2 linked regions of the Homo sapiens genome follow. The protein of the gene in region 2 interacts with the protein of the main gene of each other region in a pairwise test. Each region holds a gene or a part of one and is shown on either strand. Other genes may lie near its edges.

What was found.
Region 1: the proteins of AMH (region 2) and ARL8B interact in a two-hybrid assay, tested with the Homo sapiens proteins (one large-scale study listed by BioGRID and IntAct).

What each region holds. Positions count from the first base shown.
Region 1 is NC_000003.12:5,167,078-5,170,889, reverse strand, and holds part of ARL8B (ADP-ribosylation factor-like protein 8B), read right to left. Parts: intron 388-3,812; coding exon 307-387; intron 1-306. UniProt on the Homo sapiens protein: Small GTPase which cycles between active GTP-bound and inactive GDP-bound states.
Region 2 is NC_000019.10:2,247,650-2,251,561, reverse strand, and holds the start of AMH (muellerian-inhibiting factor preproprotein), read right to left. Parts: upstream 2,240-3,912; 5' UTR 2,230-2,239; coding exon 1,818-2,229; intron 1,226-1,817; coding exon 1,083-1,225; intron 924-1,082; exon of another isoform or gene 911-923; coding exon 802-910; intron 714-801; coding exon 554-713; intron 464-553; coding exon 1-463. Other genes in the region: SF3A2 (splicing factor 3A subunit 2), read right to left, coding at 3,016-3,795, 3,900-3,912. UniProt on the Homo sapiens protein: Plays an important role in several reproductive functions. Induces Muellerian duct regression during male fetal sexual differentiation. Also plays a role in Leydig cell differentiation and function.

The sequences.
Region 1 (3,812 bases), on a different chromosome or scaffold from region 2:
GTGTGGTGGCACAAGCCTGTCATCTTAGCTATTTTGGAGGCTGAGGCAGGAGAATCACTTGAACCGGGAGGTAGAGGTTGCAGTGAGTGGAGATCGCGACACTGCACTCCAGCCTGGGTGAAAGAGCAAAACTCTGTTTCCAAAAAAAAAACAAAAAAACAACAACAAAAAAACCTATTCTTTTGAAACATGCACATTCATTACTGAAAAACTGCAAATTTTCAGTAAAAACACAGAAATTTAACAGAAAAATTTCTAGGGGTCTGTGCTAACAATTTAAATTGCGTACGGCAAGAAATAACTTACCTTTATTGTGACGTTACCTTTAGTTACCTTCCTCATGTTGAAGCCCACTGTGGGTATCATATCTTCACTGAATTGACCTGACTGAACAAAATAAAACATTTGAAGTTAGGCTACTCACTTATAATGACACTGCATAAACTTCTAATATCAACATTGCATTTGTAACCATTTTAGTAAATATTTTTTTACCATTGGTAACAATCTACTTTAAGAACATGTTCCTTATGGCCATAATTCTTGAAGAGATGCATTATTTTGTCCCAACAAAGATATATTCTTCCATCTAAAAAAGATATTTTTGAAACTAATGTAATTTTTTACATATTTCCTTATGCTAAAAGAATTTTATATGACAAATACATACGAAAATTTTTAAATGTGTTCACCTAGATGTACATTTCCACAAAGTAGATGAGATCAGAAATAAAACTTTCAGCATTTAAATTATTCTGACAGTAACTATTAAAATTCACTGCTAAACAGCATTTCCAAGTCTGTCTTTTAATAAGGCTTATAAAATATTTTGTCATACAGAAGTTTTTCCTTTTATGTAATCAATTTTGTTCTCTTTTTGGTTACTTATCTCAATGTCATGAGTATTGTCTGCTATGGCCTTATGCTAGCCACATACACATGTATTCCAAAATTGTCTTAAATCTTGAGCACAACGAATTCCAACTGTACAAATAACTTCCTATACAGAACTCGAATTGTGCCTCTTTTAACTGTTCAGTGGAGTTTTATTAACTTCAGAAAAAATGTTAACACAGCCATAGTCACTACTTTCACTTATATAAGACATTATAATTCTCAGGACTTTCACATATGTGATTATATGTGAAAATCTAGTCATTCTATCTAAACTAGTTATATCAAAAGTAAGCCATGATAAAAGATAAATGGCCAATGAACTCATGAAAAGACGTTCGACTCACTAATCATTAGGGAAATGCAAATCAAACCCACAAAGAGATACCACCTAACATCCAGTAGGATGGCTACTATTAAGAGGAAAAGAAAAAAAACAGAAAGCACTGGAAAGAATGCAGAGAAATAGGAACTCTTGTATACTGCTGGCAGGAAGGCAAAATGGTATAGCTGCTATGAAAAATGGTATAGCAGTTCCTGAAAAACCTAAAAATAGAATTATCATATGATCCAGCAATTCAACTTCTGAATATACACTCAAAAGAAATGAAGACATTTTGCTAAATGAAATGAGCCAGAAGTCTCACACACTCACACACACACACACACACACACACACACACACACACAAACACTGTATTTCACTTTATGAGGTACCTAAAATAGTCAAATTCATAAAGACAGAAGATATTAATTTGCTTAATGGGTATGGAGTTTCAGTTTGAAAAGATAACAAATTTCTAGAAGTGGACAGTGGTGATGGTTACACAATGTGAATGTACTTAACACTACTGAATTGCACACTTAAAAATGACTAAGATGATACTTTGTGTTTTATGTATTTTACCAAAATTTTTAAAAAACTAGTCATCATACAGGGAGGGACAATTATCATTATCATTTCATAGAACAGGTAGTAGAGTCCCAAGGTCACATGGCTAAATCGTGATTATATTTTTCTTAAATATTTTCATTGTAATTATATTTATTGTGATAGGCTTTAATCTCTGAGGAGAGATCTACGTGAGATAATGCTCATTTATTTCATATCATTAAGTGTTTTACATAATGAAGAGGCAGGAAAAATAGTAGCTAAAATTTTTAGGTACCAAACTTTACAACTAGCTTGCATGGAAAGCTTTCTAAAAGGCAATATACACTTGGCTAACTTCCCACAAACAACCTATAGAACATGATTTAATGTGTTCTCAATGTTTCTGGGTCAGTTTATCTATTGCAAAACAAGAAAACTAAATTAGATAACACTCAAGGGCCCTCCCTATTGGAGGTAAAGTTTTATGATTATGAACATCAACTACAGCACTTCATAATAAAATAATGTAGGGGGCTGCAGTATACTGGGGTACCCCCGAGCTTTCTCAGGGGTTCATTTATCTCTTTTCTTTACCTTGGCCAACCCTAACAACTTTCCTGTAACTCAGCTGCTACTGCTAACATGCAAAAACCGAAAATTAGCTAATCAAGTCCTTGAGTTTTTACTCCAAAATTCTTGAGTAGAGCAAGATATTCAATAAATATTTGTTGAACAAACTAAGAGTTATTAGGGCCAGGCATAGTGGCTCAAGCTTGTAATTCCAGCACTTTGGGAGGCTGAGACAGGCAGGTTGCTGCGGCCCAGGAGTTCAAGACTAGCCTGGGTGACACGGCAAAACCTTCTCTCTACAAATACAAAAATTAGCCAGGCATGGTTATATGCACCTGTAGTCCCAGCTACTAGGGAGGCTGAGGTGGGAGGATTGCTTGAGCCTGGGAGGTGGAGGTTGAGATCTTAAGAACGATATGACTTTAAGACAAGATTGTGCCACTGTACTCCAGCCTAGACAATAGAGTGAGAGCATGTCTCAAAAAAAACATAGGCCATGAAGGAGGAAAATGCTGGAACTCTTCTGCCAATAAAGTGCTTAACTTTGATGCATGAATTTTGTGCAATAATTACTTTATGGACCTGGAAGTATTTTCTACTTCTTTCCTAGTGTCCAATCTTAATCATCACTTTTCAAAGCTTGTGTTGAACAACTATAACCACTCAGTTGGCAACTGGGCACTAGATACCTGAGAATTTATGTCTGAGCTGTCAAGAAGCTGCTTAATTAAGACTACAGGTTTGGGAAACAGATGTTTAGAAAATACTACTTAGTAGTATATCATTCTACTTATTTTAACAAATTTAACAAACACGTAATACTAAGCACTTAACATTCATCAGCATAGTTTAATCCTTATAACAACCCAATGAAATGAGTAGCATTATCTTCATTTCTCAGATGAGAAAAACAAGGCAAAGTCAGCTTAAGTCACTTGCCTAAAGTCACATTGTTCTTAAGATCTGGATAATTATGAGTTAATCTGACTTGGGGGGGAAAGAGTAGAAAAATAAAAGTAAGTAGTCCCTCCTTATCCTTGGGGGATACGTTCCAAGAACCCCAGTGGATGCCTGACATCACAGATAGAACCTAACCCTATGTACACTATGTTTTTCCCAATACATACATACCTATGATAAAGCTTAATTTATAAATTAGGCACAGTACTCTTCTGCTTTAGAGTCATTATTATTTCAGAGGTTGATCATAGGTAACTGAAACTGGAAAGCAAAACCATGGATAAGAGGGACTACTGTATGCTTTCATGCCTGCCTTCTTAAATGCCATGATCACACGTGGCACTCGCTGTGATTCTGTGATGGCAGATGGAGCTGTCACTGTCATAATGCTTACCCTCCTATAAGCCAAAGTTGCAAGGCAGTGTACCTGGAACTTGGTTGAACAAAATAAATCTGAAGCAAAATAAGATGGTGAAAAGAAGATTATTCTCAAAGTCAGGGAATCTTATTAACA
Region 2 (3,912 bases):
CTTCAGGAGCAGCAGCGCTCGCAGGGGATCGCCGAGGCCGCCGGGGCCACCTGGGCAGAGCGCGAGCAGGCGCGCCAGCAGCGGGGCTGTGGCCGGAGGCAGACCCGGGAGGCTTCGCAGCTCGGCAGCCGCCGCTTGCAGTTCAGCAGCCACGCGGCGCGCCAGGGCCGTGGCCCACGGCGCCGACGTGGGGTCGTGCAGGGGCGCAGGATCCCCGGTGGTGGCCGCAGTGGGCCTCAGCAGCAGCAGCAGCGGCTCCTCGCCGTCGAGTAGGCGCTCCAGCGCCGCGGGGTCCGACAGGTTGACTAGGCCCTGCGGGAAGCCGGCCAGCGCGTCCGGATCCAGGGCCAGGCGCGGCGCGGAGGCCCGGGCCGGGGGGACCCGCAGCGCCCGCACCAGGCGCGTGAGCGTCTCCAGGAAGGGGTCTGCGCTGGGTGGCGACTCCTCGAGTTCCGCGGATGGCCTGGAACCCGCAATTGGAGGAGTTGAGAGCGGCCACGAGGCCACGCCGCCCCCGCCCGCTCCTGCCCCGTGTCCCGGTGCCTGCGCGCACCTGGGCGGCGGGAAGGGCACGGTGTCCAGCTGGCCGTGCGCAGGCAGCGGCGCGGGCTCGGACCGCGGCAGCAGGAGCAGGGCCGGGGTCATCCGTGTGAAGCAGCGGTGGTCGTCGCCGAACAGCAGTGCCTGCAGCCGGGCGGTACTCAGCCGGGAGTCTGCGGTGGGTGGGCACGCGGCTGGCTCAGGGGCTGGGGGCCCGGGGGCAGTCGACCCGGCTCCCCGTCCCTCTCCACGCGGACCTACCCTCTCCGCGGGGCTGCAGGGTCAAGGCCAGCCCGGAGCCGCGCCAGGCCCCCGCAGGGCGGTCCACCGCTAACACCAGGTAGCGGGTGTCTCGGGAGGGGCAGAGGCTCTGCGGAGACCAGGGCTCAGCCCGGCTGGATGGAGGCTTACCCAGCCCCGCTCTACCGGTCCCCTTCCTCCCATCGCCACTGGTTCTACGCTGTTCTCAGTACTGCAGACCCTGCAACAAATCCATGCCCCCCGCCACGGCCCGGGCACTGCCCCATGCAACTCCCTGGTACCTGGGCACCCGGCAGCCCAGCCCTCGTCACAGTGACCTCAGGGCCAGGCCCAGGGTACAGCACCAGCAGCGCCAGCTCTGGGGGGCCAGCTCCTCCAGGCGGGGGCTCCTGGAACCTCAGCGAGGGTGTTGGCTCCCAGGTCACTGCAGCCGGGACAGCAGGGGACGCCTGAGCCATTGAAGGCCACACCCCCCGGGAATCTTTGGGATCTGTCCCTGCCGCTCTGGCCACTGTGCAGGGGACCTCAAGCGGGGGACAAGGGTGCCCCTCTTAGCTGCCTTCCTGCAGCCAGGGAGCGGTGACGGCAGGGGCAGGCAGGGGCTGCGTCTGAGGCTGTGGGTGGGGCTGCCGCCCTGGGGTCTCTGGGTTGGGGTGCCCGATGAAGCCCCTTCCCCGCAGGGAGTATCTTAGGCCAGCGGCCCTGAGAACAGGCTGGGGCTGTGGGAAGAAGGGTTCCACTGGCCCCGAGCCCTGCGTCGTCTTCAGGGGTGGGGAGAAGGCAGCAGCTCTCTCCCTGGCACCGAGGCAGGGGCAAGTCTAAGAGCTGGGCTTCGGGGACAGGACAGAGTGTGGTGCCCACCTTCCAGGCCACGGACCCGCAACCCAGTCCTAGGAACAAGACCACAGCCTCCCTGCCCAGGGTGGGGGCTCTGCCAGCCCCTGATCTTCCCTAGGAGGACCCGGCCCACCTGAAGGAAGACGGCGGTGCCAAGCTTGGGGCTGGGCCCCACATACCTTCCTCCAGGTGTAGGACCACCAGGCGCTGCCCCCCAGGGTCCCGCAGCCAGGCCCCCAGCCGCCGTAGAGAGGGCAAGGCAGCCTGCCTGTCACCGGTGTTGCAGACCCCGAAGGTGGCCAGGTCTCGGGGGCCCCAGCGGGCCCTCTGCACGGCCCCCAGGAAGGCCTGCTCATAGGCGCTTAGAGCCCCCACCACCCGCAGGGGGGAGCTGCTGCCATTGCTGTCCCCGCCCAGTGCCACCAGGCACAGAGGCTCTTGTGGGCTGCCTGGAGGCCAGTCCAAGTCTTCTCGGAAGATGAGGCCACTGGTGCCCACAGCTGGCTCCTCTGCTCTGAGGGCCTCAGTCCCCAGCAGAGCCCCCAGGGCAGACAGCACTAGGGCCAGGCTGGTGAGAGGCAGGTCCCGCATCGTGGGTGCTGCCAGGGGCTGGGCTGCCTGCCTTAAGTGAGCCGAGTGGAAGGTGGGGTGTTTGTGCAGGACAGACCCCTATCTCCTCTGCCGCGACCTTGGGGGACAGTGCCCGGCGCCCCCACTCCAGGCAGAGTGGCCTTCTCAAAGAGCCCTTTCTGTCCCTGGCAGCCTATCTCCCTCCCCAGTGATAGAGCTGGGCCTGATGTGTCAACATGCCGTCCTTGAGGGCCATCCCCAGAAGACACAGGAGTGGGAACCAGGCTGGGAGTGACGGCCAGGCAACCAAACTAGACAGCGCTGGGGGCGGGGGGCCCAGATGTCCTGGGTGCTGAGGTGTGGGCCTGGAGGAGGAGGGTCCCAAGTCAGTGGGGGCGCCCTGTCCCTGCTCACCCTCCCCACCCCTGGTGGGCTATCTGGAGACCCCAAGGATATCGTGGAGTCTGCTCTTCCCTCCCCAGAACAGGACCCCAGATCCCCTCCTAGCTGGCTGGTGGGGTCTGTCCTCCACCAGGCCATCTCCAAGGTACAGCCATCTCTCAGGCCTCCCACAGGTGTCTCCTGGCGGGCCCCAGGCCCTCCCCAGTCGGCCCAAACTGGGGGATGGTGCTGTGCCTGGCACTCCCACACACACTGACACAGTAGGGCGGCGCTGCGGACATCAGTGCACTCAGGGCTGGGGGAGGCTGTTTAATGAGCGGGGGGCAGTACAAAAGAGCAGCCTTCTCTCAGTGGGAAAAGGCAAGAGCACCTGGCGCTGGGCTTGCTGGGGGAGGGAGCAGCTTCTCAGTTGGTTGGGGGAGGGGGAGGTATGTTCCCTGGGCCTTCGGAGGGAAGTGGGGGCCTCAGCATTGGGGGCATGGGAGTTGGGGGGTGCACCCCAGGATTTGAGGGGTGAACTCCCGGAGGCTGAGGGTGGACCCCAGGAGCCGACGGATGGACCCCGGGAGGTTGGGGGTGGACCCCCGGGGCCTGAGGGTGCATCCCTGGGGCTGGTGGGTGCACCCCTGGGGCCTGAGGGTGAACGGCGGGGGCTGCTGGGTGCACCCCCGGGGCCTGGGGGTGAACCCCCGCTGATGGGGGAGGATGGACCCCTGGGGCTGGTGGGTGAACCCCAGGGGCTGGTGGGTGGACTCCGGGGGCTGGTGGGTGAACCCCGGGGGCTGGAGGGTGGACTCCAGGAGCTGGGGGGTGGACCCCAGAGGTTGGTGGGTGGACCCCAGGGGCTGGGGGATGGACGCCAGGAGCTGGGGGGTGGACGCCAGGAGCTGGGGGATGGACCCCAGATGCAGGGGGATGCACCACTGGGGCCGGGGGGTGGACCCCTGGAGCTGGCGGGGGTAGCTGGGGTGGTCCCGGGGGCCCTGAGGGCGCAGGCCCTGTGGGGGGCATGGGTGGCAGAGGCAGGCCTCCTGGCGGGGGCGGTGGCAAAGACTCAGGCAGCGGTGGCCGAGGGGGCAGACCGTTCATCAGCGGGGGTGGAGGCCGCTTCACCCCAGGGGGGCCAGCAGGGAGGCTGGGTGGAGCCGGGGGCTTCTCCATCTTAAAGTGGAACTGGAGGAAGAACTAGAGAGACGGAGAAAGGTTCAGCAGGCACGGGTGGGGCTAGGGCAGGGCTAGGGCCGCCAGGGCTGGGTGGGAAGGAGCCAGGCTCGGGGCGAGCCACTCACCTGCTTGGTCTCC